Linked DNA regions of Homo sapiens. The protein of the gene in region 2 purifies or fractionates together with the protein of the main gene of each other region. This does not show direct contact. Each region holds a gene or a part of one and is shown on either strand. Other genes may lie near its edges. The genes, in order: CRACR2A, IZUMO1, ANKRD13D and SLC39A11.

Region 1 (7,760 bases), on a different chromosome or scaffold from region 2:
GTAGTTGTGCTAACATGCAAAGGAGGAGAGGGATGGTGAAGCAGTCTGGATGCAGAAGCTTTCTACTGGCTTTTGTAGGACTGGGCCGAACTCTAGACACTTTCTGGCAGAAGGCTCTGCAGTCCCAGGTCACCTCCCCCACCAGTGAGTGTCAGTGTTAACCAGTACACTCTGGGTTGTTTTCAGAGGCTGCATAAGGAGCTACCGCTCAGCCTGGAGGAACTGGAGGATGTGTTTGATGCCCTGGATGCTGATGGCAATGGCTATCTGACCCCACAGGAGTTCACTACTGGATTTAGTAAGTTCTGATGGGTGCTGGGGACCTCAGGGTTATGGGTCTACCTAACACTGTATAAGGTGCATTCCTGTCCCTTGTAGACCTGGGGGGCAGGTAGTAAAGCTTTCCTGCCCTCCTTTCAGGGACCTGGAGCTCAAGGTCTCCAGGCTCTAGATTGCTTGGGCCTCCTCACATGCCCGTCTCAACTGCTTACATTGCCGCTTGCTCAGTGCCCACTGCACTGCCATTACCAAGCTCCCTCCCACTGGGACTGGCAAGGGAGATGGACGGAAGCTCTGCAGAAGCCATAGCATAAAAGGGGGAGCTGTGATGAGATTTGCAGCCTCTCCTTTTCTGCCTTCATAGAAAAATGGCCAAAAGGTGGGACAACTGGATGGCTCATTCCAACCCAAGTCTGGCTGAATTTTCCAGGTTGAGGGATAACAGCTATCAGAGGAATTTCTAGAAGGTTTGAACAGACTAGACATTCTCAAGGTAACCAGGAGGAAGAAGAATCGAGATCTATGAACAATATAAAGAAACCAGACACACTATCCTATCAGATACATCAAAAGCCATATATCTGCCTTATGTGTGGGGCCATATAATTTTCTTGTAAGTATCTGATGCCTTTCCTGACCTTCAGGAGCTTCTAATTGACTTGGGAGGATAAGACAGACTGCTGTAACACTGGACAGTATGAGTATGGAGGAAGTACACTGGAAACTGTTAAGGAGCTTGTAGATGTGAAGTCTAGTGATGCTAGCGGGAGGATGACTAGGATGACAATAGGAGCCTCTGCAGTCAGGGTGCTGGAATGCAGTGCAGGGAAAGGCCTTGTTGCTTAAAGAAGAAATCAACGGAGATGCGTTCTAAGCCAGATGTTAAGGGACTGAGAACCACAAAGGAGACACCGTATCCGTCTTACATTCTGCCATTCCCAGATTCTAGCATCACTGATGGGGTGTTTGTGGAAGTGGAAAAGTCACAGAATCTGGAACGTGTCCACGGACCCATGTCCATGGATCTTTGCTGGAGGGGCTTTCCCTTCCCTTTCCTTCTCTCAGATGAACCTTCAATGATTCCTGGCAGGTGAGAAAGCTGAGCTCTTCCTGGATGGGTATGGTCTAATTCGGATCCTTGTGCCCTGCACCCCCCAGGTCACTTCTTCTTCAGCCAGAATAACCCAAGTCAGGAAGATGCAGGTGAACAGGTGGCCCAGCGCCATGAAGAGAAGGTGTATCTGTCCAGAGGGGATGAGGATCTGGGCGACATGGGCGAAGATGAGGAAGCCCAGTTCCGGATGCTGATGGACAGACTTGGAGCCCAAAAGGTGTTGGAAGAGTAAGTGGTGACAGTGATTTGTAGAACGGAGACCAGCCTGGTAGGAACCTCTTCCTGTGTCCATTCAACAATTAACATTTGTTAACCATGTGGTGCTGGTCCCTGCACTGGAATGCAGTGCAGGTAAAGGCCCGCTGGTTCTGCCAGTGGGGGCCTGTCCTTTGTGATGACCTGGCTGTGTGTTGGGCTCTGTCTCTGCTGTTTACATTTTTTTTTCTTTAGGAATCATTCCTATTCTCCTTCTCTCCCACCCCCTCTACCTTCCTCACTCCTGGCCATGCATTATCCCCCAGTCCTTGGCTCAGCCTTGCTCCTCATGAGGCACTCACACATCAGAGGTCTGTACCATGCTCTCAGGGTTTTTCATGGAGTTCTCCCTAAGGCTTCCTATCACCATCAGCTCCCCAGCATCTTTACCTCTCCTGGGTCTCTAGAGCTACGGTGCCTCCCAGCTGCCCCAGCTGTGGGTGCCTTCCTGGCCAAAACCCATCATGTGGAAGCATTTGCACACGGTATCCTCGGCAAACCAGGCTTGTGCAGGAAGCCAAGGTGGGAAATGAAGCAGTTTTTAGCAGGCCACTACTTGGAAAATTGTAGATGGCTGAGATCTCAAACAAAACATAACTACCCCTCCACCATTTTTTTTCCTAAAATGTGCTTTGGAATAGACACAGGGATCTAAGCCCTGACATTGAAGTAAAGTAAAATAAAATAAGGAAAATGTGGTGTTACAGCTAGTAGAAACCAAACAGAGGGCCTGAAAAGCATGTAATACCTTCTGCCCCTTTAGCCTTTGCCTTTGGCCTTTTTGTTTTGGGGTCCTTAGGTCTTGGGTTAGATGTATGTTTCCTGTAGTGTGGGAATGCCCTACTGATTACAGCTGACATTTCCTGAGCTTGGGAAGAGAAGGGGCTAGGGTGGAAAATGATAAAAAGGAGACAAGAGAGAAGAGGCCTATATACGATTTGCAGGCCGAAGCTCTGTGAATTTTTCAGCAAACAATTTGGTAGACTGTGGCAGAACTGGGAAAGGCTGGCGAAAGTGTGTTCCAGGCAAGAAAGGGATAGGCAAGTGCCTGGGGAAGATCCTGGTGGGGGCGCTACACAGGAAGTGGAACTCAAGACCAGCAGCAGTAGCAGGTTTGCTGAAGGCCTGGAAGGGGCTGCAGCAGGTGTCGACCACAGAAGGTGTAGCTGGCAGGTGGAAGGGGCACAGGTGGGTGGGAAGCTCATTAGTCATACACCTGACCCAGCTTCTCCAAGGACAACAGGCCAGAGCACAGAGACCATTCCTGGTGACAGTGTGACACCTCCTCCTGGAGAAGGGGGAAGGAGAAGGCAGTGCAGGTGAGCTGAGGCACCGTAACGGAAGGAAGGGGCCTCTCTGCCCAGCCCTCACTGCAGGGTAGCAGCCTTACTGGCAAGGTTCTCAATTAGAGTCCACCAGACGTGACTCTGAGGACCTATAGTAAGGCAGTGCAGAACTGAGCCAAAATGAGATGTCCCGAAGAAGAGGAGGTTTTGTGGAGGTTTCAAGAGTGGTCTGTAAAAGATGATACACAGAAGATGGTGACCAGCCACTTCCATCCTCACTGAAGTGGGCTTAGATTGCAGCATGAGGGAAACATTCACGGCTGTGAGACCTCAGATAGGGAAATAGAAAAGGCTATGAATATTTGAGGGCTCTTTAAAGATTTTGCTCACCAAAATGATTTGTGTGTTGTTCTGGAAGCAGTGAAATGGATTGATAAACCTCCCAGAATCCTTTCTAGCCTATACTCCCATATCCTCCCAGGAGGGGTGGCCTTGGTGTGTTCTAGAAGTTCGAGACTGGGCATCTGCACTTTGACTTTTCTTGGTGGTCCGATTGGCTAAGCGATTTGGCAGCTTAGTGAGCTTTGGCTTGTTTTTCATCAAAAGTTGAAAGACTTGTCCCTTCTCCAGAAATCTGGGGCAAGTTGTTGTTGCCATGACTAAGTAGTTCAAAGAGTGTTGGAAGAGGAGCAGGTGGGTCTGCAAATCTCACTGGGGACTTGAGCTCAGTTGGCTCCATCAGGAACCTGGCAGGTGTGGACAGACAGACCTGGGCTGGCAAGGTGAACCTTGATTTTACAATGCATTTACTTCATGGTGGCGTGTCTCAGTCCATTTGGTTTGCTGTAATACCTGCCATAGATGTGGTACTTTATATAAATAACCAAAATTTATTTCTGGCAGTTCTGGAAGCTAGGAAGTTCAAGATCAAGGTGCCAGCAGATTTGCTCTCTGATGAGGTCACATTCCCTCATTCACAGACAGTTGTCTTCTCACTGTGTCCTCATATGGCAGGAAGGGTGAATGAGCTTCCTCTGGCCTCTTTTATAAGGGCACTAGTGCCATTCGTGAGGGCTCTGCCTTCATGATCTAATCACCTCTCAAAGTCCTCATCTTCTGGCACCATCATGTTGGGGTTAGGATTTAAACATATGAATTTGTAGGAGATATAAACATTCACACCACAGCAGGGAACAACCTATAACAGGGATGGGAGGTCACCATGGTGTCTCTCTGAGACCCTCTTATCTCTGAACCCTTTGCCACATCTAAATTTTACCTATAGGATGAAATAAGACCCCCACAACATGCTGTGTGTGTGTTGTGGGGCTGGGAGGAATGGAACTCATTCTGAGAAACAGAGAGGTTCCTTACCTCCTTTTCTCCCATTTCCCAGATTCACCCATGACATCCAGTACAGTGCAAGGTTTACAACAGATCATAATAAATACTTGTTGAGTTAATAAGGAAATGGGTGGGTGGATGGATGGATGGATGGATGGTCTAAATAAGTACGCGGATGTTTGGATGGGATAGAAGAAAGAATTGGTGGAAGTGATGGAGCAAGGAAAGGAGGGAGAGAGGGATGAAGTGTTAGAGATGACCAGATAACTGATCAGAGGTGGGCCTATTTCTCAGTGGTCCTCTTCTCTGCTGGGTGCAGAGAGTCATGTCCATTTCCCAAGAGCGTTGCTAGCATGGCACTATTGAATATCCCTTCTGAATAAGGTTTCTAAAATATAATGCTTAATAACGCAAGCACAAAGGATTTTATTCCTTCTCCTGAGGGTTCCTTGTCAGAGCTATCCTCAGATCTTCTGTTTCTGGAATTTAATGGAAGACAAGTCACATTTACGTTTCTGTTTTTGTGGTTTTTGTCTTAAAGTGATTTATTAGTGAGGTACTCCCAGAAGAAACTGGCAAGGGATTTGGGGAAGTGGGACAGGGAAAGGAAGTAAAACAAATAATGGCGTAATTTTAGGAAGAGTCCTGGTTCTCCAGGGGTATTATTTATGTAGTCATAATAGTATAAACATTTATTTAATATCATATTTGGGAGTTAGCATACAGAGTTTTAAAACAATACTAATTATAGAACACAGTGTCAATGGCACTAGTCCCATTTGTGAGGGCTCTGCCTTCATGATCTAATCACCTCTCAAAGGCCTCACCTACTGATGCCATCATGTTGGGGGTTAGGATTTAAACATATGAATTTGTAGGAGATATAAACATTCACACCACAGCAGGGAGCAAGCTGCCACAGGGATGGGAGGTCACCACCCATTTCTCAGTGGGCCTCTTCTCTGCAGGGTGCAGAGAGTAATGTCTATACCACAGGGGCATTGCTAGCATGACACTAACAAATATCACTTCCGAAGAAAATTTCTAAAATATAATGCTTGTTATACAAGCACAGATAATTTTATTCTTTATCCTGAGGATTCCTGGGGAGCCAACAGGAATCTGTTGGTGGCAGATTGTCAAGGTGCAGATGACTGTAATGGACAAGCAAATTTTGGAAAGAGCTCAAGAGAAGTATAGGCATACAGATAACTTTATCCTCATAAAACGAGGGTCATAAGCGATTTTCCATAATCAGGTTAAATTAATTAAATGTGAAATATACATTACATAAAGTCTCAAAGTTTAACAGAGTAAAAAATCAAAATGTAATTATGTTGAAAGGATGGAAGGAGGTGAAGGACTTATATTTTCAATAGCTGGAAACTTGAAAGATTAAGACACAGAGTGAATATTTAAGTAACAAAAGACTTTGAGAAGACAATGAACTGAGCTAGTTATTACATCTTGTTATATAGATGTGAAAAAAGTGTTGGAAAATACATATGTGCCCATTAATTTAAAAAAATCAAAAGCCTGATTGTTTGCGGGATAAGATTTATATTTATTCTCTACTTTGCTAGAATAAAGTTTAATTGATAATTTATAATAAACTAGCCTGTGAAATTTCACTTGAACTCTACTGTTTATTATTATATAACTTTCAAACTTGATGCTATAACACTCTACTGTCTGCTAGCTGTGAGAAATTATTAACTTTTATTGAATTAAAACCTATCCTCTTTCAGATTTATGTTTAACTTAGCTTGATCATTGGCCACAGATTTTTTAGTTTCCCCAGAAAGGGAGAACAGGGTCCACCATGTGTGTCTCCTCCTCATTCCCTCCCTGGGTGTCAGCCTGAGCCCCTGTATCTCTGTCACTGAGCTGTGTACACACGTGCCTCTGTGCCTTTGTCTATTGGCCTCTGGGTCTCCCAAGTCTCTCTCGCCTTGTCTTTCTGTGTGTGCGCATCTTTCAGACTTGCTCCTTCCCTTCTTTTTGCCTGTCAGTCATCCCTAGTGCCACTAGGCCACAGTGGGGTGCTGCATATTCTCTTCCCTTCCTGCAGTGACAATTGCTTTCTGCCATCCATCACATGGCACGTCTTTACCTCTCAGCAGTGAGGACCATCCTTCCTGGGGGCAACGAGCTCTCTGCTTTAGCTCCATAGTGTGTGTCCTTAAACGCACTGGGCTCCTGTCCTCCTGTCTTCTTCCTGGCATTTGGAGATGCACCAGAGCATGTTGCTGTGCACGCCCAGCCCCACGAGCCCGTCGTGAAGGCCACGGGAGAACAGAAGCAGCAGAGCGAGGTGGGGAAGGAGGCCAACACCGGAGTCAGACAGCCCTGAGCTGGACCCCTGACTCCATCAGTGACTGCTGGGTGATCTTAGACAGCTCACTCCACCTCTCTTCACCTGCTTCGTCATCTGTAAATGGGGTAATTGCAGCTCCTGCCTTGTAGGGTTATTGTGAGGACGAAATGAGCTGATATCCTTGAAGCTCCTCACATGCAGCAAGCATTCGGTCCACGTTAGCTACTGTCATCTTTATAATGATTCTGACGGTACTGTTTCTGGCTGTCAGTTTCCTGTCTGGGAACCTCTGTATTTCCCGTGAAGCCTCATCTCCACACTTCCACATGAGCGTCCCTTCTCTTGCAGTGAAAGTGATGTCAAGCAGCTCTGGTTGCAGCTGAAGAAGGAGGAACCTCATTTACTGTCCAACTTTGAAGACTTCCTGACCAGAATCATCTCCCAGCTCCAAGAAGCCCATGAGGAGAAGAATGAACTGGAGTGTGCCCTAAAAAGGTGGGTACCCCAGTGTCAGCCGCTTTCTGTAACTATGTGTGAAAAAGAGAGACACACGGTGCACTTTCTCTTAGATCTTCTGCCAAAACATCGTGCAATGCCTCCTTTTGCTGTCTGCCAAAGTGGGGACCAGGCCCTGTGTCTGTCACGATATATGTATTTTTAAGCTCTCCGTCACCTTTTTAAGCTATATGGTAGGCACTATTCTAAATACTTTTTATACACTAGCTTATTTAGTTCTCACCACAACGCTTTGAAGGAGGGACTGGTTATCATTTTGCACATTTATTATCTGCACATTTTGCAGGCGGAGGGTTGGAAACCCAGAAAGGTTAAGTAGTACACCCCAGAAGGCATAGCTTGTGAACAGTAGAGCCAGGACTGGGAGTGAGCTAGCCAGGTGCCTGTGACCAGAAGAAAAATCACTCTGCTTGCCTCCAGGCAGTAAGACCCCAGCATACTGGGCCATCCCCCAGGGCCAGATCAGCCCACTTTGCAGAGGTGGCGTGTTTGGTAAGGTGACCTATAGCCCTGCTGAATGTCCCTCCTCCTGGCCGCTCTCTCCCGTCACGGCCTCATGTCTCTTCGTCTACCCTATTTGCCTCCAAGACCTCTCCAGGAGACAGGACCAAGCATTGTTAGAAACAACCCAGAGTCCTCCTCACTCACA
Region 2 (8,316 bases):
GCCCCCACACCCCCATCTAGGCTCTCTCTAGACTGCCTCTCCTCTCGCCCCACCCCACCTGCACCAATTCCTCCTGCTGGGTCCAGTTCTCTCACCCCCGCAATCGTAGGACTTTCGACAAGCGTGAACCTCCTTTTTGCAGTTCTTGCACCAGATCAGAGTTTGCAACATCACACCTGGAGGGGCAGGGTCAAGGCTTGTATTTGCCCACTAAGGGGCATGGCTAAAAGGAGAGGTCAGGGCTAAGGGCTGGGGCCAGATCATCTATGACATTCCTAGATGGTCAGACGAAGGCACAGGACCAGGACGCAGGTAAGTAGTAAGTGGGCTCCAACAAGGCTCAGTAAAGATTGTAAGTAGAGGCCGGATGCGGTGGCTTACTCCTGTAATCCCAGCACTTTGGGAGGCCGAGGCGGGCGGATCACAAGGTCAGGAGTTCAAGACTAGCCTGACCAACATGGTGAAACCCCGTCTCTGCTAAAAATACAAAAATTAGCTGGGTGTGATGGCGGGCACCTGTAATCCCAGCTACTCAGGGGGCTGAGGCAGGAGAATAGTTTGAACCTGGGAGGTGGAGGTTGCAGTGAGCCGTGATCGTGCCACTGCACTCCAGCCTGGGTGACAGGGTGAGACTGTCTCAAAAAAAAGAGTGTAAGTAGAATATGACCTGCTCCCCAAGAAATCCATGGTGCAGAAAGAATACTGGAGACCCAGGAACCTCTCCAAGGCAGAGAATGACAAAACCACCAGGATCCAAAAAGGCGAGTGGGGAGGTTGACTATTCAGAGGGCAGGATGAGGGTTAACTTCTGTAATCCAGACTCACCACATTTGTTGGGACAATAAGCTGTGTCAAAAGAGAAAAAAAGAGAGCAAGAAAGAGATGACAGAGTCAGATTTCTAAATGAAAGACGATGGAAGAGGGGGTTGGGGGAAGAGCTGGGCTTTGGGCTTTTGGGTTCGAGGGAGAAAAGACTTGGGTCTGAAGGAGGAGGCAGTTGGGGAAGCTGAGGAACTGGGCTTGGAGAAGTAAGGGGCTGGAGACAAGGACTCTTGGATAGTGGAAAGAGGAGCTGGGGGACACCGACTCCCATCTTCTCTCACCCTCTTTTTGGAATCGAGCAACATAGGTGGCAAAGGTTTCCTTTTGCAAGTGCAACATCCAAAATAGCTCCTTCACGAAGAGATCGCCTGGGAAGACACAGGAACCCCCAATCCCACGTGTGAGGTGTTGGAAGTTTACTTCTGCCTGCAGAGTCTGGCAGTCTACTTCCTGGCCTTCTCAGGAAAGGGCGCTACAACTGACCGTCTAACATAATGCCAGCTGCTGGGCTAGGCAATGCATATTTTGGGGGATGGGGGAGGGTCTTACCCTGCCACCCAGGCTGGAGTGTGTGGTGTAATCGTGGCTCACTGAAGCCTCAAACTCCTGGACTCAAGCAATCCCCCCGCCTCAACCCCCCAAGTAGCTAGGACTACAGGCACACACCACCATGCCCAGCTAATATGTATACATATGTCTATTTTTTGTAGAGACAAGGTTTCACCATGTTGGCCAGGCTGGTCTTGAACTACTGAGCTCAAGTAATCTGCCTGCCTCAGCCTTCCAAAGTGCCAGGATTACAGGCCTGAGCTACCGTGCCCGGCCAGCAATACACATTTAAACTGAACAACTGAGGAAGCATTTTAGAGCCAAGGGAGCTTCAAAGTCCTTTGCTCAAGGCCGTACAGCTAGGAAGTGGCAGAGCAGGCATTGGAATCTAGGCGGTCTGGGTCCACAGCCTAGTATCTGACCAAGAGACCAGGCATCACTAACGCTGGCTTCTCTGAGAGATTCGGGACTCCCACCCCCTTGATGCATTTACCTTTTACATCACTGTCTGTGATGCGTTTCAGATCCTTCAGCAAACTCCAGGACCCCTTTTGCAGTGTGGCCTCATCTGTCAGAGGAGATATAACCCCAGATTCCAGCCTTACTGTCTCATTGGCGCGCCTAATCTTAGAAACTACAATACCCATGAGGCCACTGGGCAAAGATAGGCCTGGTTAAGGACTCAGCCGCCCGTTGCCTTCTGGGAGTTGTAGTTTTATTACATAAAATTGCCAGCCGAGGATAGGGAAAACGGTATTTACTAGCCTCGGGGAACCTCGGAATCTGCATCTCAGCCTTCTCCATTCCCGAATCCCGGAGACCCTGCTGTCAGCCTCTTCCTTCCCCTGGTCTTATCTCCCTCCTTTCCCAGGACCCAGGGGTCCGTGGTCCCCCCTGCCCTCACCAACGACCCCCATATAGGCATCCTCATTAAGCGACAGTTCCTGGAAATCCTTCACGGCATTCTCTACCCTTTCCATCATGGCTTTGTGATGCTTCGCATCCAGGTGGCCAGGCAGGTAATCTTTCTCCAGGGACTTTAGCGCCAGCACGACAGACGGGTCACATATAACACACCCCTCGGCAGGAAGCAAGCAACCGGCCAGCGCCGCACACAGGAGGGTAAAATGCGGCCCCATTGCAGCCGGCGCGCACAGTTCCCGAAGACCGTTAGGAAGGGTGCTCTCACCCCAAACCGAGAGCAGGAGAACGCTAAACGGAGAAAAGCCAAAATCCATCTTAAGAAATCCCACTGGGCCGCCTATCCATGGGGTCCGCAAACCTCGAAAAGAGGATCTTCAGGAAATCTCCAAATAAAGAGGACCTATGTCCTTCATCAAATGCCTCCGAAGTGTGAAACTGAGCCCCAATCCAGGGGACCCAAAATTTAGGGTTCTCACTGAATCCCCCAACTGAGAGATCAGAAAAACTATTAAACAGGAATCACTCATAAGTCCCCAAACTCAGAACCTGGAATCTCCCAACCCCATGCGCCCCTTCCCAAAATCCCAAACTGTGGAATTTTCCAAGTCCCCAGATTGACGTGAGCCTGAACTCCAACCCTTAAGAGCAACACCGAGGCACTCCCCCGCCAGCCCCCCAAAACCTGTTGAACCTCAAGCTGAAGATTCAATGCCCAAACCAATAAACATCTAACACAGACCCAACCACGATATTATCAAACTCGGAACTCCTTCAAAACCAAAACACATACCAGATTCCTAGAACTGAGGACCCCACTAACACTTAAGCGAGACTCCATGCGGTCCTCTAGACCTAGGGGGCCCTTGTTCACCCTTCCCCAAAACTAACGGGCTCCCAATTTGCAGGGCGCACCCTTCCGCTTAGAAAAAGGAGCCCCGATGCATCCTGAACAGTGATGCACCCTAAACAGCCGCTCCCCGACCTTGGTTCCCGATTTGTGGCCTCTAACACTAGGGTTCATTGAGGAGCCCGGTCCAGGTTCTGAGGGCTTTTAAAGAGGAAGCCGGGGTCATGACCACCTACGCTAATTTTCCCAGGGGTAAAATCAAGGATTGTGTTGGGGACGAGGGTAAGGTTGGTTGCGTGAAATCGAGAGCTTTTCGACGGGGTCTGAGTCACGGACGATCCCCTCTCCACAAGGAACTCCTGAAACCACCCCCTCCGAGCTTCTCACGTAGGGGCCCGAATTCCTTTATAGATATTCCTTGGGGTTTTCCTCGGCCCCACCCAGAAACTCAACTCTGTCTGATTGGACTGCAACAAAGGGAGGTCCCGCCCATCGCTCCATGACGTCACAGAGGCTGCAGCCTTTTTGGACTAGAATTTTCCCAGCATCTAGGGAAGAGGAAGCCTCCTGACTACTCTGGCTTCCAGAGTCAAGGACCGGACTCAGGCCTTCAGTTTCCTCCCCTCCCCTTGCCCCAGGACCCAGGCTTTGGGCTAGATCCGGCCCCCCAGGCCGCTGCCGCCCCCACCGCGGTCCTTGGAAACGGCTGTCGAGCCACGAAGTGGACATTTTAGCCCTAAGACTACAACTCCCAAAATGCCCTGGGGCCTCTTTCTCTGTAGCTGACTGACGCTGCCAACCTCATAGCTTTCCGGGAAATGTAGTTCAGTGATAATCCGCTCCCTCCTCCGCCTCTTCTGCCCACGCGGAGGTCCCAGTGGGAGGAGAGGACTGGGGGCCAATACTGACAGTCCAGGAGTGAGCAACTGGGGGCTCAGACGTTAGGGTCCTGGAAGGTCTCTCTCTCCTGTGTGATAGAAACAGGGAACCAGAAAAACAGGGACCACAACTCACACAAGTCCAGCAACAAGGGGCTGTCAGATCTAAGTAGGGACAGTACTCCCAATCACGAGTAATAAAAATCCTCAGGGCCCGGCGCGGTGGCTCACGCTTGTAATTCCAGCGCTTTGGGAGGCCGAGGCGGGCAGATTGTCTGAGGTCAGGAGTTCGAGGCCAGCCTGGCTAACATGGTGAAACCCCGTCTCTACTAAAAATACAAAAATTAGCTGGGCATGGTGGCGAACGTCTGTAGTCCCAGCTACTTGGGAGGCTGAGGCACCAGAATCCGAGAGGTGGGAGTTTGCAGTGGGCCGAGATCACACTACTGCACTCCAGCCTGGGCCACAGAGCAAGACTCGATCTCTGAAAAAAAATAAATTAATTAAAAAAAAATAAAAGTCTTCAGAAGTACCCCACCTTTTCCTCCACTCTCTTACACACACACACACACACACACACACACAAACCCACACACACATACACAGTGGCTCTGGCTCCAAAAAAGCTACAGAGACACGGGTTAGTGCTGTAGACTTTTAATTCATACCTCCTGCTCTCTCACCCGTGGCAGCTGAGTTGGGAACAGTACTGTAACAATTGTAACTGTAACTCCCTGATAAGCCTACAGGCATGGGGTCTGGATGAGTAGACAGGGGATGTGATCAGAGCTGACTATGTTTAAGGTTTCTTCTTTCACCCTCCAAAAAACAGCAAGGGGCTCCTGAGATCTCGACAACCCCGTCCACCTTGGCCAGACCTCGTGCTCCTGCCTGGATCTGAGGCTGGGTCCAGGGTCTGCCTACCTTTAGATCGTTTTATCTCAGACCTGCCCAAAGCCAGATGTAGTGGTTCTGGGAGTTCAGGGACAGACAGTGGTTAGCAATGAGCACGGTACCTGCCAGTTTGTCACAAGCACAGAGGGTGTGTTTATACCTGCACACTTCCAGAAAACAGATCCCAGACCCTCAGCAGCCCACCTGCAGACAAAGACCAACTTCCTTCATTGTGAGAGGCAACCTGAACTCACACCCAATATATGGAGCTCTTGGCAGTTTATGAGCTTTAAAAAAAAGTGTCCCTGGATCCCTGGAAAGTTCTGCTCCAGAAGCTGTACCATTTTGGCAGTGATCCCTCACCCCACGTTCACATTTTAGCCTGTCTGCTCAAAACAAACAAAAAAAAGTCTTTGAGGGGCTGTGGGGCTTGTTGGACAGAGTCCCGCTCTGCTCACCAACTACCCCAGCTTTTCCAGAGACTGTGAACAGAGCAAGACGCTGGCCAACTAGAGATGGTTTGTTTTCCATCTCAATTTTTCCAGCAATGGTGGAACATTCATTAGATGCTACAATTAGGTTGCACATTCATTAGATTCTTCACTTGGCCCGGTGTGCTGGCTCACATCTATAAACCCAGCATTCTGGGAGGCCAAGGTGGGAGGACTGCTTGAGCCCAGGAGTTGAAGAACAGCCTGGGCAATATCACAAGACCTCGTCTCTACAAAAATTAAAAAAAATTATCCGGGCCAGGCATGGTGGCTCACGCCGGTAATCCCAGCACTGTGGGAGGCCGAGGTGGGCAGATCACGAGGTCAGGAGATCGAGACCATCCTGGTTAACACGATGAAACCCCGTCTCTACTAAAAATACAAAAAAAATTAGCCGGGCGTGGTGGCGGGCGCCTGTAGTCCCAGCTACTCAGGAGGCTGAGGCAGAATGGCATGAACCCGGGAGGCAGAGCTTGCAGTGAGCTGAGATCGCGCCACTGCACTCTGGCCTGGGCTACAGAGCAAGACTCCGTCTCAATAAATAAATAAATAAATAAATAATTAAAAAAAAAATATCCGGGCTGGGCACAGTGGCTCATGCCAGTAATCCCAGCACTTTGGGAGGCCAAGACAGGTGGATGACAAGGTCAGGAGATCGAGACCATCCTGGCCAACATGGTGAAACCCTGTCTCTACTAAAAATACAAAAATTAGCCAGGCATAATGGCCTGTGCCTGTAGTCCCATCTACTCAGGAGGCTGAGACAGGAGAATCGCTTGAACACAGGAGGCGGAAGTTGCAGTGAGCCAAGATCACGCCACTGCACTCCAGCCTGGGCAACAGAGCGAGACCCTGTCTCCAAAAAAAAAAAAAAAAAACTAAAAAGATTCTTCACCTTAGTTATCTGGATTTCCAGAACCCCATCCTGTCCATAAGGGCCCTGCAGGGTTCTTCACAGGCATCAAACCTGGTCCTCTCTAGAACAAGTCTCCCTCTAGAATCACTCCAGAAACACAGAAGGGGACTTGGTGAATGCTTGCTCTGGAGCAATCATATGCTCCTTCAGTCTTTGGAGGACCCAGGGGAGAAGTAACCCCTCTTCTAGAGTAGACCAGAGGGAGAGTTCCCCATTCCTGGGGGCAGCCATCTGGAAGTACTGTAGATATGGGCTGGGAAGAGCAGGTGGGCACTGTGGCTTCTAGAACTGCCTGCCAGCCATCAGGAAAAGATGTTTTGCTAGTTCTAGAATATTCAGACAGTTCCAGAAACGTCCCCCTTCTCTCCAACTCTCCCAACTAGAATCACTCTGGATACGGGCACCCATTTGCTTCAGGAACACCACAAGCTTCTCCAGAAGATGCCAGGCCTCTGAAGCCACGTACTGCTGGCTCTAGAAAGATCAGGCTACTTCAGAAAGTCTCCCTGGCTCTCAAGGCTTAGCCAATGTCCAGAGTGGAGACAAGTCTGCATTAATGCCCACCCACTCGGGCAGGAAGGCCGCCTCCGGCTTAAAGATCTTCAGGAACTCAGAGTCTGGCAGGGTGAAGTTGGCCAGGTAGACAGTGTCTCCGCCAGCCAGGTAGGCAGCCCAGAAGCCGAAGGTGCCAATGGTCATAATGGTGTGGTTGCACTGTGTGAGCAGGGCAAAGTCTTTCCACGGTGTAGCCTCCTGTCCATCGCCAGCAAACGTCACATCGCCCTGGGAGGTGTCGATGTTTTCTTTACACCACTCCATGCCGTTGCTGGTGACCACGAAAACGGGGGCTTCGTGCCGTGCCCGGAACCAGTCCATGGCCTGCCGGAGGTAGGCGCTGTCGCCCACCACACCCTTCCAGCGCTGAGGCATAACCTGCAGATAGTCCCCACGGCGCACGTGGACGCCGACAAAGGTGCGCGGGCGGTCCCCTGTGCGGCCCAGGCGGAGCTGACCCAGCACACTCTGCGCCTCTTCCCGAAGGTGGTCGTGCAGGGTGAACTCTCTGCGGATCTGTTCCCGGAGATGGTGGAAGAAAGTCCAAGAGCAGGGGAAGCCAGAGAGCTTCAGGAAAGGATCTCTCAAGTCCGCGTACTCCTCCGACATCCAGTCGTGAAGCTGCAGCTCCCGCCACGGCGTGCGGCTGTCCACTTCTGGGGCCAGCACGGGCAGGGTGATGCGGAATACCGGGGCCAGGGCGGCATGCATGGCAGGCAGGATAAAGGCCCGGCGGCCGTTGAGCTGGGCCAGAGCCAGCAGCGTGGCATACTGTCCCATCTGATTACCAAACCGGCCATTGGGGTAGACAGTCCAGGTGCCGGAGAGGGAAGCAGGGTGCTGGGGACAGGAAGAGGAGGCGTTGGGGCCCATCGCAGTACCCGGCAGGCAGAAGATGGCCACTGGGGGTGTCACCAGGCGGCGGTCTGGACACAGGATCGACAGGCCTAGGCCATGTGGAAAGCTGTCTTGATGGATATGGAGGAAGAAGATTACAGAGAGGACACAGACTAGCAGGAAGGCCAGGCAGAGCTGACGATGGCTCCGGAGCCACATGGCTGCAGGGGAGGAAAGGCGAATTAGCAAATGCTCTGAGGCTGAGGAGGGGAGGCTGAGGAGGGATGTGGGGTAAGGGAGGCGCCTGGGGTGCAGCACTCCTTAGTCCCAGGGAAAGAGGAAGTTAAAGGTTTAGACTCCTGGGGCTGAGGTAGGGAGAGCCTGAGTCCTAGGTTTCAGGGATGAGAGCCTTGGAATTTCGGGGCATGGGGACTGGAAGACAAGTGGTTTTCAAGATAGCCATGGTTTGGCTGGGCACTGTGGCTCACACCTGTAATCCCAGCATATTGGGAGGCTGAGATGGGAGGATCCCTTGAGCCCAGGAGTTCAAGATCAGCCTGGGCAACAGAGCACTCTTACAAAAAAATTTTAAAATTAGCTTGG
Region 3 (7,760 bases), on a different chromosome or scaffold from region 2:
ACTGGGGCTCACTCTGCAGGAGCCCGAAACACTGCTGGCCGCCATGCGGCCCAGCGAGGAGCATGTGGCCAGTCGCCTCACCTCTCCTATCGTCTCCACCCACCTGGACACTCGTAATGTGGCCTTTGAGAGGTCGGTCGGGTCCTGGCACACCGTGGGTGGGATGGGGACGGATAGCAAGAGCCACCATTAATGAGGGCAGGGCGATCCTTGAAGATCCTGGTTCAGGCCTCTGGGCTCACTCACAAGGGGCTGCTCAGGGGCAGGTGGGTTGCTGCAGCCCGTGTCTCACTCAGACTGCCGGGGTGGTTGGGCTCCTGTGGCCACCTTTGTGGGGAGGGGTCAGGTCAAGATGTCCCCAGTTTCTTGACTTCTGACCTCATATGTTTTCCCATTAAGACAAAGATTTAGGCTGTGGTTCACGGCAGCTCTTTGCACCAATGTTGGCTTGTCATTGGTGCGGCTGTGTTGGGGGCAGAATCCTTTGTGGGTAGCCTAGGAACCTGACCCTTCCAGCAAGAGTTTCTCTGACAACACATGCCCCCTCTTGCCTTAACAGTCAGTGGAAACACTTAAAAAAAAAAACAAAAAACCTTTATTGAGATATAATCTCATATACCATATAAGATCACCCATTTAAAGCATACAGTTCAATGACTTTTAGTATATTTATTCAGAGATTTGTACATCACCACAGTCAATTTTAGAACATTTTTATCACCTCAGGAAGAAACCCCCCACCCTTTAGCTAACTCTTCGCCAAACTTCTTATCCCCTCTCCCAGTCCTAAGCAACCACTAATCTACTTTCTGTGTCTGTAGAATTCCCTGCTCTGAGTTCTCATATGAATGGAATTTTATAATATGTTGCCTTTTGTGTCTGGCTTCTTTCACTTAGTATAATATATTCAAGGTTCATCCAAGTTGTAGCACGTAACTATTTCTTTCCTTTTTGTGGCCATTGTATGAATATACCATATCTTGTTTATTCATTAACCCATCGATAGACATTTGGGTTATTTGCATTATTTGGCTTATGAATAATGCCACTCTAAGTATTCATGTGCAAGTTTTTGTGTAGACGTATGTTTTAATTTCTCTTTCATATGTTTTCATTTCTCTTGGGTATATACCTAAGAGTGGAATTGCTAGGTTACTGATAACTCATTGTTTAATTGACTGTTTACCAAACGAGCTGTACTGGTTTACATTCCCACCAGCAGCATGTGAGGGTTCCAGTTTCTCCACATCCTCATCAACACGTCATTATTCACTCATTTGTTTTTGGAATCTAGCCAGCCTAGTGGGTGAGAAGTGATAGCTCACTGTGATTTTGATTTGCCTTTCTTTGATGACTAATGATGTTGAGCATCTTTTCATGTGCTTATTGGTCAATTGTATATCTTCTTTGCAGAAATGTCTATTCAGATCCTTTACTCATTTTTTATTTAACTTAATTAACTTATTTATTTTGAGATGGGGTCTGGCCTTTCACCCAGGATGGAGTGCAGTGACATGATCATGGCTCATTGCACCCTCCACCTCCCAGGCTCAAGTGATCTAAGTAGCTGGGACTACAGGTGCATGCTGCCATGCCCAGCTAATTTTTAAATTATTTGTAATTATTTTATTATATCATTTAATTGTTTTGTTTAGTTATTTGTAGAGATAGAGTCTACAGACTGGTCTTAAACTCTTAGGCTGAAGCGACCTGCCTACCTGGGCCTCCCACAGTGCTGGGATTACAGGCATGAGCCACCACACCTATCCCTTCACCCATTTAAAAAATTGGGTCATCTTTTGATTATTGAGTCATAGGAGTTTTATAATTTTAGCTGTTACACTTAGGTCTTTGAGCCATTTTAAGTTAATTTTTGTGTATAGTGGAAGGTTCTTTTGCATGTGACTATCCAGTTGTCCTAGCCCCCTTTGTTGAAAAGACTATGTTTTTCCCACTGAATGGTCTTGTCACCCTTGTCGAAAATCAGTTGACCATAGATAAATTGGTTACTTTCTGACTCCCACATTAGTTCCATTGGTCTACATGTCTGTCTTTATGCCAATATTATACTGTCTTAATCACTGTTGCTTTGCAATAAGTTTTGAAATTGGAAAGTGTGAGTCTTCCTACTTTGTTTTTCTTTTTCAGGGTTATTTCAGTATTTTGGGACCCTCGCATTTTATATGAATTCTATTTTCTTTTTTCTCACAACCCAGTGTAGGCAGAATATATGAATTCTAGATTCAGCTTGTCAATTTCTACAGTCAGGTGGGATTCTGATAGGAATTGCACTGAATCTATAAAGCAGTTTGGGGAATAGTACCATGTTAACAATGTTAAGTCTTCTAATCCGTGAACATGGGATGTTTTTCCATTTATTTGGATCTTCTTTAATTTATTTCAACATTATTTTATAGTTTTCAGAGTGTAAGCTTTGCACTTTTGTTACATTTATTCCTAAGTGTTTTATTCTGTTTTTTGTTTTGTTTTGTTTTTTTGTTTTTTTTTTTGAGATGGAGTCTCACTCTATTGCCCAGGCTGGAGTGCAGTGGCACAATCTAGGCTCACTGCAACCTCCACCTCCTGGGTTCAAGCAGTTCTCCTGCCTCAGCCTCCCAAGTAGCTGGGATTACAGGTGCCCACCACCACTCCTTGCTAATTTTTGCATTTTTAGAGAGACAGGATTTCACCATGTCGGACCAGGCTGGTCTCCAACTCCTGACCTTGCTGGGATTACAGGTGTGAGCCACCGTGCCTGGCCACTAAGGGTTTTATTCTTTTTGATACAATTATGAATCAAATGTTTTTCTTAATTTTATTTTTTGATTGTGTATTGCAAATGTATAAAATTACAATTGATTTCTGTATGTTGACCATGTATCCTGCAACATTGCTAAACTCATTCATTCAAGTAGATTTTTAGTGGATTCCTTTCCTCAGTATTTTTTTTAACATATAAGATTATGTTATCTGTAAATAGATTTAGTTGTATTTCTTCCTTTCCAATTTAGGTGCCTTTTGTTTCTTTTTCTTGCTTAATTGCTCTGACTAGAACTTCCAGTAGAATATTGATTAAAGGTTGTTAGAGGCTGGATGCGGTGGCTCACGCCTGTAATCCCAGCACTTTGGGAGGCCGAGGTGGGTGGATCACGAGGTCAGGAGATCGAGACCATCCTGGCTAACATGGTGAAACCCCATCTGTACTAAAAATACAAACAATTAGCCAGGCTTGGTGGCGGGCGCCTGTAATCCCAGCTACTCAGGAGGCTGAGGCAGGAGAATGGTGTGAACCCGGGAGGCAGAGCTTGCAGTGAGCCAAAATCACGCCACTTCACTCCAGCCTGGGCGACAGACCAAGACTCCATCTCAAAAAAAAAGGGGGGTGGTTAGAGCAGGCTGGGCATAGTGGTTCACGCCTGTAATCCCAGAACTTTGGGAGGCTGAGGCAGCCAGATCACTTGAGGTCAGGAGTTTGAGACTAAGCTGGCCAACATGGTGAAACATCATCTCTACTAAAAATACAAAAACAAAAAAAAAATTAGCCAGGCATGGTGGTGGGCACCTGTAGTCCCAGCTGCTTGGGAGACTGAGGCACAAGAATTGCTTGAACACAGGAGGCAGAGGTTGCAGTGAGTCCAGATTGTGCCACTGCACTCCAGCCTGGGTGACAGAGCAAGACTCCATCTAAAACAGTAAATAAATAAATAAAAAAGAAAAGAAAAGTGGTTAGAGCAGACATCCTTGTATTCTTGTCTTGTTCTTCATCTTAGGGGAAAAACATTCAGTCTTACCATTAAGTATGATATTAGTTGTGAGTTTTTGGTAGATACCCTTCATCAGGTTAAGGTAATTCCTTTCCATTCCTCATTGTTAGAGTGTTTTTATCATGAAAGGATGTTGGATTTTGTGAAATGCTTTTTCTGTGTTTATTGATATGATCATGTGATTTTTTAAAAAATTCTATTGATACATCAATTGACCTATGGATATTGAACCAACCTTGCATTCCTGTGATAAGTTCCACTTGGTTGTGGTGTATAATTCTTTTCATATGTTGCTAGATTTGGTTGGTTCGTATTTTGTTGAGGATTTTGTGTCCATATTCATAAGTGATATTGGTCTGTAGTTTTCTTGTGATATATGTCTGGTTTTGGTATCTGGGTGATGCCTCATAACTGAAGTGGAAAATGTCACCTCTTTGTCTATTTTTTTTAATAGTTTGCAAATAATTGGTATTAATTTGTCTTCAAAAGATTGGTAGGATTCAGTGGTGAAGCCATTTGGGCCTGAGTGTGTGTGTGTGTGTGTGTGTGTGTGTATGTGTGTATAGTTTTTTGTTGTTATATTTACCAATCAGTCTCTTGACTTGTTATCCATCTATTCAGATTATCTATTTATTCTCAAATTAGTTTTGGTAGTTTGTGTCTCACTAGGAATTTGTCCATTTCATCTAAATTATAAAATTTGTTGGTGTACAGCTATCATTGTATCCTTTTATAATGCTTTTTATTTCTGTTGCTCCCCTCTTTCATTTCTGATTCTGGTGAGTAATTTGAAGTTTTTGTTTTGTTTTGTTTTGTTTTGTTTTGTTTTGTTTTTGAGACAGAGTCTTACTCTGTCACCCAGGCTGAAGTGCAGTGGCATGATAAGAGCTCACTGCAGCCTTGAACTCCTGGGCTTAGGTGATTCTTCAACCTCCCAAGTAGCTGGGACTGCAGGCATGCACCACCAAGCCCAGCTAATTTTCTTTTTTTGTAGAGATGTGGTCTCACTATGTCATCCAGGCTGCTTTTGAACTCCTGGCCTCAAACAATCCTCCTGCCTTGGCCTCCCAAAGCACTGACATTACAGGTGTGAACCACCGCCCCCAGCCAAGTCTTCTCTCTCTTTTTTTGCCCACCGTGGTCAACCTAGCTAAAGGTTTGTCAATTTTGTTGATGTTTTCGAAGAGCCAGTTTTTGGTTTCATTAATTTTCTCTATTATTTTTCTATTCTCTATTTCATTAACCTTTACTGTAATATTTATTATTTCTTTCTGTTCTTTCTGGTTTAGTTTGCTCTTTTTCCATTGTCTTAACATGGAAGGTTAGGTTAAGGTTATTGATTTGAGATCTTCTTTCTTAATATAGGCATTCACACATATTACATTTATACTTCTAGGCATGTCTTTTCTTTTTTTGACATGGGGTCTCACTCCATCGCCCAGGCTGGAGTGCAGTGGTGTGATAGCTCACTGCAACCTCCGCCTCCCAGGCTCAAGTGATCCTCCCACCTCAGCCTCCTGAGTAGCTGGGAACACAGGCGCCAGCTAATTTTTTCTGTTTTTAGTAGAGATGGGGTTTCACCATGTTGCACAGGCTGGTCTCGAACTCCTGTGCTCAAGCAATCTGCCTGTCTCAGCCTCCCAAAGTGCTGGGATTACAGGCGTGAGCCACCGGGCCTGGCCTGGCCTTTACCTGTGTCTCATAAGTTTTTTGGTTTTTTTTTTTTTTTCTGAGAGGGAGTCTTGCTCTGTCGCCCAGGCTGGAGTGCAGTGGCACGATCTCGGCTTACTGCAAGCTCCGCCTCCCGGGTTCACGCCATTCTCCTGGCTCAGCCTCCCGAGTAGCTGGGACTATAGGCGCCTGCCACCACGCCCGGCTAATTTTTTGTATTTTTAGTGGAGATGGGGTTTCACTGTGTTAGCCAGGATGGTCTCCATCTCCTGACCTTGTGATCTGCCTGCCTCGGCCTCCCAAAGTGCTGGGATTACAGGCGTGAGCCACCGTGCCCGGCCATAAGTTTTGATATGTTGTGTCTTTATTCCTGTTTATCTCAGAGTATTTTCTGATTTCTCTTTTGATTTATTATTTGAGACGTTGGCTATTTAGGAGTGTGTTGTTTACTTTCTACATATTTGTGAATTTCCAAAGTTTTTTTTTTCTGCTATTGACTTCTAATTTCATTCCATTGTGGTTGGAAAACATACATTGTATGACTTCTATCCTTTCAATTTTATTGAGGTTTTCTTTTTTTTTTTTTTTTTTTTTTTTTGAGACGGAGTCTCGCTCTGTCGCCCAGGCTGGAGTGCAGTGGTACTGTCTGCTCACTGCGAGCTCTGCCTCCGATGTTCACGCCATTCTCCTGCCTCAGCCTCCCAAGTAGGTGGGACTACAGGCGTCCACCACCGTGCCCGGCTAATTTTTTGTATTTTTTAGTAGAGACGGGGTTTCATCATGTTTGCCAGGATGGTCTCGATCTCCTGACCTCATGATCCACCCCCCTTGGCTTCCCAAACTGCTGGGATTACAGGCATGAGCCACCGCGCCCGGACTTATTGAGGTTTTCTTAATGGCCTAGTGTATGGCCTTGAAGAGTGTTCCGTGTGCGCGTGAGAAGCGTGTGTGTGGTTGTTATTGGGTAGAGTGTTCTAGCCTGCTTATGAAGTCCAGCTGTAGTGTTGTTCTTATCTTCTGGTTCTTTGTTGATCTTCTAGTTGTTCTATCCCTTATTGAAAGTGGGGTACTGGAGTCTCCAACTGACATACTTTTCTTTTAGCTTTTTATTTTGGAAAATTTCAAACATATATGAAAGAAGAGATAATGTACTTACTCATCACCCAGCTTCAACATTTATCAACATCTTGCCAATCTTACTGAATCTATCCTTCCTTACCTTTTTTAAAAATGTTTCCTAGAGTGTGTCAAAGCTCATCCCAGATGTCCTAATGTTTCTAGTAAATGCTTCTGCACAATTCTAAAAGACAAGGATGTTTTTAAACCCAGCCCCGACACTATCATACCTCACAAGATTCATGCTAATTCCTCAGTGTCTTCTAGTCCCAAGTCCATGCTCAAGTGTCCCCCCCTGTCCAGGCACCCTCTTCAGGGGTCCTCCATGTTTCATAGCGAGAAGGGGCCCTGAGAGTTGGGCACCCCGGGCAGGCTGGCTGGAGGGGGCTTTGGAAAGGAAGGCTTTGGCCAGCGTGTGAGGGTGCAGGTCTCACCAGCTCCTGTTTGGTCTGTTTCAGGAACAAATGTGGTATCTGGGGCTGGCGGTCTGAGAAGATGGAAACTGTTAGCGGCTACGAGGCCAAGGCAGGAGAGGCTAGGGGTGGGGGGCTGGGGGTAGGAGATGAGGTCCAGGAACTCAGCTCCTCTCCACATCCATCCCAGAGTAGCCCCTGGGCTCTGGAAACCCTGAGCATTTGTGGGAACTCAGCGGGCCTGAGTGCCCAGCCCCTGCGGAGTACACAGGGCTCACCCACATCATGGGCCCCTACCCAGGGTACCGAGATCAAAAGAGGAGTGTGTTCCTCTTGACCCTGGGGCTGCATCTCCTCGTTGGTGACTTCCTGGGGTTCAGACCCTGCCACCTCCTCCATTTTGGGGAGCAAGATCTCATCTGTCTCTGGGACAGGAGGACCTGGGTTCTGCACTGGTGAGGCTGAGTGTGGGGAGCAGGCTCTGAGCCCCCAGCTCCCCGTGTCCCCTGCTCCCCAGGTGTACAGTGCCACCAACGTGGAGCTGGTGACACGCACACGCACGGAGCACCTCTCTGATCAGGACAAGTCGAGGAGCAAAGGTAAACCCAGGTGCGCCTGCCTGCTGCCCGGTCACACCGTGTGGTGGGGTCACCCTGGCCTGGGATTAGGGGCCAGAGTTTCCCAGGATGAGCTGGGAGGCCTCCCCATTCCCGTCTGACCCCTCTTCCCCCAGACAGTAGGCTCCAGGGGTGGAGGTGGGCAGGGGCGATGCGAGCATTGTGACCCCTTACCAGCT
Region 4 (7,760 bases), on a different chromosome or scaffold from region 2:
GAGATCTCTGCCTTGTTGCTCTCAGTCAGGCTCCGGTGACAGGTTGCCATGGGACTTGGCTTGTCACGGAAGGGACAAGGGACCTTGTCAGGGGACAGCCTGCGGTTTCTTTTCTAAAAGAGCCCTTCATCTCCACTTCCCTCTCCTTCCCATTAATGTGTCGTGGTCCAGACTAGTAATAGTGTCTTTGTGCTACTGCTGGGGAGGAACAGAACCCAGAAGACAGCAGCTTCACTGTCTTCAGAAGGGCATGGGTTTGTATTTTCCCCGTGGCTTTTGAATGCTGTTTTGAATTTTCATGGCCCATCCTGGAAAGGAAACCTCTCATCTGACCTTTCCCTTCCCAGAGCGTAAAGGAGGGAGGGAATGGCCCACCAACCCCACCTGCCCAGGATCGTCAGCTCAGAGTGTTTAGTTAGACTGAAGGCCTTGCAGGAATGCACAGCAGGGCTGCAGGAGGGGAGCTGGTGAGCCTGGGGCATCCTCCACGCCACCAGCCCCCCGGGAGGCTGCCCTTGTTCTTCTTCACAGTTTCCCATCCTCCAGCCAGTCTAGGCCCCACAGCTCCTAAGTCAGCTCACGGCTCACCCCCTACCACTGAGAGACTATCCCTGCCACGGGGTCCTCAATATTCTCTGTCACTTCTGTTATGCATCCATATCCCCGAATACCACCTGCTTTGCTGCTCCTGCCCTCAGTTGCTCCAGATCTCCTCCAAAGCTCCCCAGATCAGATCTTGTATATAGTAAGCACCCCGGTTGCAGGCTCCTGATGCATTCAGTAGTGGCCACAGGTGTCCTCGGCTCCCAGACTGTGTTGGGAATTCGAATAGCAGGGAAGGGGCTCCTGGGAGGGAGGCGGGCTTGGCCTCCATCCTCATCCTCACCTCCTCTGACACCTGCTTAGGCCAGTGGCTCTCAACGCCCTCGCACACTCTTAAAATCTGCACACAGGGGGCCCAATGCCACGGCAATAAACCGAGATCTCCAGGGCAGGGCCGAGGCATCGGCATTTGCCGGTGCTCCCTGTGACTGGCATGTGTCGTCAGGTCTGAGAGCCGTGGATTCAAATCCCACTCTGGAGCTGATGCAGGTGATTGAAGAAGAGGAGAGGGCTGGAAGGGACTGTGTCCTCCACTGGGCCACCCCCACCAGTGGGCCTCTGACCAATGCCCAACAAGCAGCGGGGCGAGGGAACTTGGATGGGCCTGTGCGTGTGCACGGGTGTGTGGAGGAGAGCCCAGTTAGGCAGTGTTGTGCATGACAGGTAGGAAAGGCAGAGAAACTGTGGTGCCAGCCCCTGCTGGGGAGCAAAGGAGCCCAGGAGTGTCAGGAGGGACTCTGACCGCCCAGCAATGCAATGCCCTGCTGAGAAAGGCCTGGCAGGATCCAGAGGGCATGGCAGCTGTTTGGGCTGGCAGCCCCGTGCCAGGGCTGGGGCAAGGCAGAGGTAACGAGGCTTGCCAGGGATGGAAGAATGGGGTTTCTGTGCTGCTTATCAGGATGGTGGCTCCCAGACAGGATGTGGAGGAGGCTCCCACAGCCCGCCGGGCGATGGCTGTAGTCAGCGCTATGTCACGGCGAGGACTTTGGATGGGGAGCCCCACCTCTGATTTGTCAGTGACATTGGGCTGGTCACTCTGCGGCTACCTTCGTGTGCCTGCCTGTGAATATGAGGTGCAGGCAATGGCAGCGGACTGAGAGCCAGCCACCAAGTGCCTGGCAAAGCCCAAGATATCAGAAGCCTTGGCCTTCCTCATTGGAAAGAAACCTTGCACTTCGGACTTTGCAAAAGGTCAAGGAAGCTGGTTGTATTCACTCAACCATTTTGAGGGCTACAAGGAGATGCTGAACAAAGTCGCAGGGAAGGGGCCCCCCTGAGGGTCTATCTGGGAAGGCGGGGCAGGGGCTTATGAAATATTGGCAAGAATTTATCCTTAAGAATTTGTCCTCAACATAAATATATTCACATGTCTCCAACTCCTGGAATAGGAGCTCAGGGTCAGCTTGCACATGAAATTGGTAGCAGAAGCTGCGAGAACAGGCCGCATTTCTGCCCAGGGCTGGTTAGAACACGCTTGTCAGCATCCTATAACTGAAGCAACGTTCAACAGTGTCTTCCAAAGCTAGCTTTCGAGTCCTAGGCCTGGGGCCCCAGAGGGAAGAAGTGAGGCCATTAACTCCGATCCTATACCCAATGCCAGAAGCGGCACCCATCACCCTCCCTGGCAGAGCAGCAGAAGAGGGGAGCCTAGGACCTTTCAAGGTGAGGAAGAGAGCTCCTGACCCTTTTGTCCTGCCCCTATAGACTGGCTAGGAAGACATGTTAGGGACCCAGAAAATAAGGAAAAGCAAGATGGCTAAGCAGGGCCACCCGCTCACTCCCCATGCCCCACCCTTCCGCACACACACGCACATTTTAAACACAAGGGACCAGAATGACACCTTTTTCCTAAACATCTGTAGCTAGATTTCCTTTTTCATCCTGTCTCATTTCTCCAAATCCTTCTCTCCTGTTGAACTAGGACAGATCAAGACTATGTGGAGGATATGTAAGCTACAGTTGACTTCCTGCCCAGGGCCTCACCTCCTAGAAGCACTTCTCAGGGAAGTGTAAAACTGTCCCCAGCTGCCCAGGACAAAATCTTCAGAGGTGACCCCCAGGGCTCAATTATCCAATGGAGCTTTCCATACTTTAAAGTGCAGCAGGCCGGGTGAGGTGACTCACACCTGTAATCCCGCACTTTGGGAGGCCGAGTCGAGCAGATTACCTGAGGTCAGGAGTTCGAGACCACCCTGGCCAACATGGTAAAACCCCATCTCTACTAAAAATACAAAAATTAGCTGGGCGTGGTGGTGGGCACTTGTAATCCCAGCTACTGGGGAGGCTGAGGCAGGAGAATCGCTTGAACCCATGAGGCGGAGGTTGCAGTGAGCTGAGATCACGCCACTGCACCACTTCAGCCTGGGTGACAGAGCGAGACTCCTTCTCAAAAAAAAAAAAAGAAAAGAAAAGAAAAGAAAAACCAAAACAAAAAAAAAGGGTGCAGTGGCTCATACCTGTAATCCCAGCACTTTTCAAGGCTGAGGCAGGTGGATCATCTGAGGTCAGGAGTTTGAGACCAGCCTGGCTAATATTCTGAAACCCTGTCTCTGCTAAAAATACAAAAAAAAAATAGGGGGGTGTGGTGGCACATGCCTGTAATCCCAGCTACTCGGGAGGCTGAAGCAGGAGAATCGCTTGAACCCCAGAGGTGAAGGCTGCAGTGAGCTGAGATCGTGCCAGTGCACTCTAGCCTGGATGACAGAGCGAGACTCCATCTCAAAAAAAAAAAAGAAAAAAAAAGCGTGCAACAGAAGAGTCAAGCCCACCAGGCTCATCAGAATGCCCCCTACTCCCTTCCAGCAGCTCTCCCCTCCTCTGTGCCCAGGGAAGCGTCCAGCCTCCAGACATTTACTGGGGCTCAGGGGGGTCTGGAGGTGATAGAAGGAATTCTTCTATATGTGCCAGCCTAGGAGAAGCAAGAATCCACATCTCCCGGGAGTTTCTGTACAACCCAAACAGACCAAGCAGTATATAGGAACACAGTATCTGAAATGCCTTCAGGTTGCACAGTGGTTCTCACCAAAATCTTACAAGTGATGTAAAAATCTCACACAAGTGTCAACAAGAGCAAATGAGTGAGTGCCGATGGAAACTCAAGCATAGATGAGCCATAAGCAAAACAGCCAAGCCAGGTCTCTTTGAAACAGAGCTTTGCAGAGGAATGAGTTTTGGCTTTAGGGTAGAAAATCTTAGTCTCTCTTGGAAAGAGGACGCATGAGTTCTTGGAAAAGCTTTAAGTCCCTGTCTCTGTTATTTCACGCTGCAACCTCAGTGATAACACTCACCCTCACCCCAGGACAGGCATTGATTACGTGCTTACTGCATACTAGCTCCCGTGTGCTAAGGGCTTGAGAGGGACCATCCCAGGTAATCATATCAGCAACGCTGTGAAGTGAGGGTGGGTATTGTTCTTCAAATTCTGCAGTTGGAGAAATGGAAAGTAGCACAGCTAACAAAGCACAGACCCAGGATTTGGACAGAAGAAGTCAGACTGCAAAGCCCAAACTTCAACTACCACATGCATGGCCATGAGAACATAAGAAGAGATAGGGTCTGCAATGCCCAGGGTCTGTGGTTTCATCTTGCCAGATCTTTCTGCAGCCACTGAGCTATCAGGGCAGGGGTCAGCAAACTGCAGCCCATGGGCCAAATCTGGCCCCCCACTCATTTGTGTAGATAAAGTTTTATTGGAACACAGCCACACTCAATGGTTTATGTACTGTCCATAGCCACTTTTGCACCTGCAATGTCAGAGTTGAGTGGTTGCAACAGAGACTCAGTGGACTGCAAAACCTCAAATATTTACTATCTGGCCCATGACAGAAAAAGTTTGCTGCCCCCTAGATCCAGGGATGAAGTTGGAGCATGTTTGAGCCCCTCTCTAAGGAGTCAAAGGAGAGCACAAACTTGGGTGATATAGACAGGGATTTGGGTAGACTCGTGGGAAATGCTGAGTGATGCAGCTTTTGTGGACATGTCCTGGGCTGGTGTGGTGGGGTGTCTTCTTGTCTGTCCACTCCACTTCATGAACAGTTCTGCCTGCAGGTTGGAGAGACAGGCTCAATGCTTCTGTCAGTCCCAAGAGACCATAATATTTCCTTTATTAAGGAACTGATCAGTTTTCGGATGCTATCACTTTTCAGATGCCCCCTGGGGAAGCTGCTTTGTCCCTCTTCACAGTTTCCCACCCCCAGCCAGTCTAGGCCCCACAGCTCCTAAGTCAGCTCAGGGCTTCTTCCCCCAACCCCACCCTAGGGGGACCATCCCTGCCACGGGGTGCTCACTATTCTCCATCACTTCTGTTACATATCCATGTCCCCTAATGCCACCTGTTTTGTTACTCCTGTCCTGTGTTGCTCCGGATCTCCTCCAGAGCTCTCCACATCAGATCTTGTATACAGTAAGCACCCTGGGCTGCAGGCTCCTGATGCATTCAGTAGTGGCCACAGGTGTCCTCGGCTCCCAGCCTGTGTTGGGAATTGGGATAGCAGGGAAGGGGCTCCTGGGAGGGGGGTGGGCTTGACTGCTTTCCTCATCCTCACCTCCCATGATGCCTGCTTAGGCCAGTGGCTCTCAACGCTGTTGCACACAGGGGCAGATTTTAAGCTGATGGGTAGATGCTGAGGGGCTCATTGTAATCTTGTCAAAAAGGGATGGGCACTAATTCTATGAACCACATGTGAGCTAAGTGGTGACAGGTATGAGATTCTGTTAGGGCTGGACTTTTCCTAAGAGTCTACTTGACTGGCAGACTCGAGGTGGGGGCTACTTCTTCCTGAGGTATCTGGAACTACGAACCTCAATGAAACATGTGCAGGAGTTGGGGGATAAAGGTAAAAAAAACAGGGTAAAGGCCAAACCCTGAAACAAAATGGAGGTCAGATGCTAAACTGGGGATTCGCCTTGGTGTTCTTTGTTAGAGGCTGGAACTTGGGCCTCAGCCGGATCAGGCCTGACAGGACCTTCAGGGCCACGAGTGTGTCCCAGTCCCGGGAGCCTGGGGCAGGTCATAGGCAGGGGTCCCAGCTACCAGTCTACAACACTCCCTTGCAGCAATGGGTAGATTCCTATTGGCAGCAAGATGGATGGACGTGAGCCAGTTGACCTGAAAGTCGGTGATGGTGGAGTTTCTCTTCTCTATCTAATCTACCCACAATTCCCTCGGGCCACACACCAGCATTGCTTGCCGAGTGGCACCCTCTTCTCACGCCCTTTAGATCATTGTTGATCAGATGGCCCTTCATGGAGGGGCTGCTTCTTGGAACTGTCCGGCCAAGGTAGAGTCTCACGTGCAAAAGGGCCTTCCTAAGGCACTCGGACTGGCCCCATTTCCCTCCTCTGCTTCCCTCATGCCTCTGTTTCCTGTGCAAGTTGACTTTTGGCTGATTTGCTGTAGTTTGCAGCATCCACAATAAGGGTTCTTCATGTACATGCCTGTGTTGTCTCCATGGCTAAATACTAAGCCCCCTGAGGCCAGGCATGTGGTCACAGATTGCATTTGTACGCATCCCATTTTGCTTCTCCCTCCTCTCACACTCCAATGCCTGGTTTGTGCAGAAAGCAGCTTCTCAAAGACAGGCATCTATCAGCACAGCCTGTCACTGTCCTGCAGAGGCAGGAGGTGAGAGGATCACTGTGAGCACCACTGGGGCCCAAAGAAATGCAGCGATGGTGCCAGACCTGCAGAGCCCACGGAGAAGCTGAGCCCAGAGCCAGATCTGTGGCACCATCAGCGTCTGCAGCTGCACTTCCTTGTCCCATTTCTGAAGTGGCCTCTGAATAAAATGTGATATACTCATTTCTGTGCTGTAACAGAATAGAAACCAAAATGCATTAAGCACCTCTCTATGCTAGGATGTGATAGGCATTATTGGGTCACTGGGTCACTCAGCAATCCTTTATGGTAGATATTGTTGTCCCTAAATTGTATACAAGAAACAGAGGTGTAGGCTGGGTGCCGTGGCTCACGCCCATAATCCCAGCACTTTGGGAGGCCAAGGCAGGCAGATCACTTGAGGTCAGGAGTTGGAGACCAGCCTGGCCAACATGGTAAAACCCCATCTCTACTAAAAATACAAAAATTAGCTGGAAATCACTTGAACCCGGGAGGTGGAGGTTGCAGTGAGCCGAGATCATGCCACTGCACTCCAGCCTGGAGTCTCCAGAGCGAGACTCCATCTCAAAAAAAAAAAAAAAGAAAAAGAAAAAAAGAAAAAGAAACAGAGGCGTAGAAAGTAAAATGAAAAGTGCAGTTATACAGCCACGTGGCAGAACTCAGGGCACCCTGAGAGCCAGCCAGTGTGTTCTGTGCTGTAGCAAAGCATTGTAAGGACAGAGCCTGCCCAGGACCCAGGACAGCATGATGGGTAGAGGGCTCACGTCACTCCCTCCTGCAGCCCCTGCTCTTTACCTAGACACACGTCCTGACCTTTCTCCTTCCTCTCCTACTGCAGGTCACAGGTCTCCTCCTGGCTTCCTAGCACCCACGGAGGTCTTGGCCTCGGCCAGGGACTCCCATTGTGTGAGCACCTATTCCAGACAGCAGCCTTCATGTGCTTTCTTGGTTTTTCAGGAATTTGGCCATTGGAATCGGGATCCAGAATTTCCCCGAGGGCCTGGCTGTCAGCCTTCCCTTGCGAGGGGCAGGCTTCTCCACCTGGAGAGCTTTCTGGTGAGTGCTGCCCAAGGGCAAGGCCATGTCACAGCATCCTCCATGTGGGCTTCTTTCAACAAAACAGTGATGTGCTTTTGCACTGCCATGCTCAGATATGACGTAGAATGGCATGCATCCATGTGCTAGGGTTGAGCCAACAGTCTGGGCACGTGGAGTGTCTGCTTGCCTCCCCCTGCGGTGGTAAATGTCTCTGTTCTCTCCTTAGGTATGGGCAGCTGAGCGGCATGGTGGAGCCCCTGGCCGGGGTCTTTGGTGCCTTTGCCGTGGTGCTGGCTGAGCCCATCCTGCCCTACGCTCTGGCCTTTGCTGCCGGTGCCATGGTCTACGTGGTCATGGACGACATCATCCCCGAAGCCCAGATCAGGTTGGAGAACCTTCCCTCCCTGTCTGTCCCTGTCCCAGTCCCAGCTGGGACCCCAGCCTTGGGATATGCTCTTTCTTCATTTGCCTTTCCTTTCCTTATTCCCTCCCCCTCTCTGCC

The links.
Region 1: the proteins of IZUMO1 (region 2) and CRACR2A purify together in Homo sapiens (affinity purification with mass spectrometry; 2 studies listed by BioGRID and IntAct, with this or other methods). This does not show direct contact.
Region 3: the proteins of IZUMO1 (region 2) and ANKRD13D purify together in Homo sapiens (affinity purification with mass spectrometry; 2 studies listed by BioGRID and IntAct, with this or other methods). This does not show direct contact.
Region 4: the proteins of IZUMO1 (region 2) and SLC39A11 purify together in Homo sapiens (co-immunoprecipitation; 3 studies listed by BioGRID and IntAct, with this or other methods). This does not show direct contact.

The regions. Positions count from the first base shown.
Region 1 is NC_000012.12:3,672,776-3,680,535, reverse strand, and holds part of CRACR2A (EF-hand calcium-binding domain-containing protein 4B), read left to right. Parts: intron 1-186; coding exon 187-298; intron 299-1,437; coding exon 1,438-1,621; intron 1,622-6,943; coding exon 6,944-7,090; intron 7,091-7,718; exon of another isoform or gene 7,719-7,760.
Region 2 is NC_000019.10:48,743,350-48,751,665, forward strand, and holds the start of IZUMO1 (izumo sperm-egg fusion protein 1 isoform 1 precursor), read right to left. Parts: upstream 3,561-8,316; 5' UTR 3,086-3,560; intron 2,584-3,085; 5' UTR 2,511-2,583; coding exon 2,276-2,510; intron 1,940-2,275; coding exon 1,865-1,939; intron 1,191-1,864; coding exon 1,104-1,190; intron 847-1,103; coding exon 826-846; intron 177-825; coding exon 96-176; exon of another isoform or gene 59-95; intron 1-58. Other genes in the region: FUT1 (galactoside alpha-(1,2)-fucosyltransferase 1), read right to left, coding at 6,835-7,932. UniProt on the Homo sapiens protein: Essential sperm cell-surface protein required for fertilization by acting as a ligand for IZUMO1R/JUNO receptor on egg.
Region 3 is NC_000011.10:67,292,049-67,299,808, forward strand, and holds part of ANKRD13D (ankyrin repeat domain-containing protein 13D), read left to right. Parts: coding exon 1-132; intron 133-7,009; coding exon 7,010-7,076; intron 7,077-7,481; coding exon 7,482-7,563; exon of another isoform or gene 7,564-7,573; intron 7,574-7,760. UniProt on the Homo sapiens protein: Ubiquitin-binding protein that specifically recognizes and binds 'Lys-63'-linked ubiquitin. Does not bind 'Lys-48'-linked ubiquitin.
Region 4 is NC_000017.11:72,648,686-72,656,445, reverse strand, and holds part of SLC39A11 (zinc transporter ZIP11), read left to right. Parts: intron 1-7,177; coding exon 7,178-7,276; intron 7,277-7,484; coding exon 7,485-7,643; intron 7,644-7,760. UniProt on the Homo sapiens protein: Zinc importer that regulates cytosolic zinc concentrations either via zinc influx from the extracellular compartment or efflux from intracellular organelles such as Golgi apparatus. May transport copper ions as well.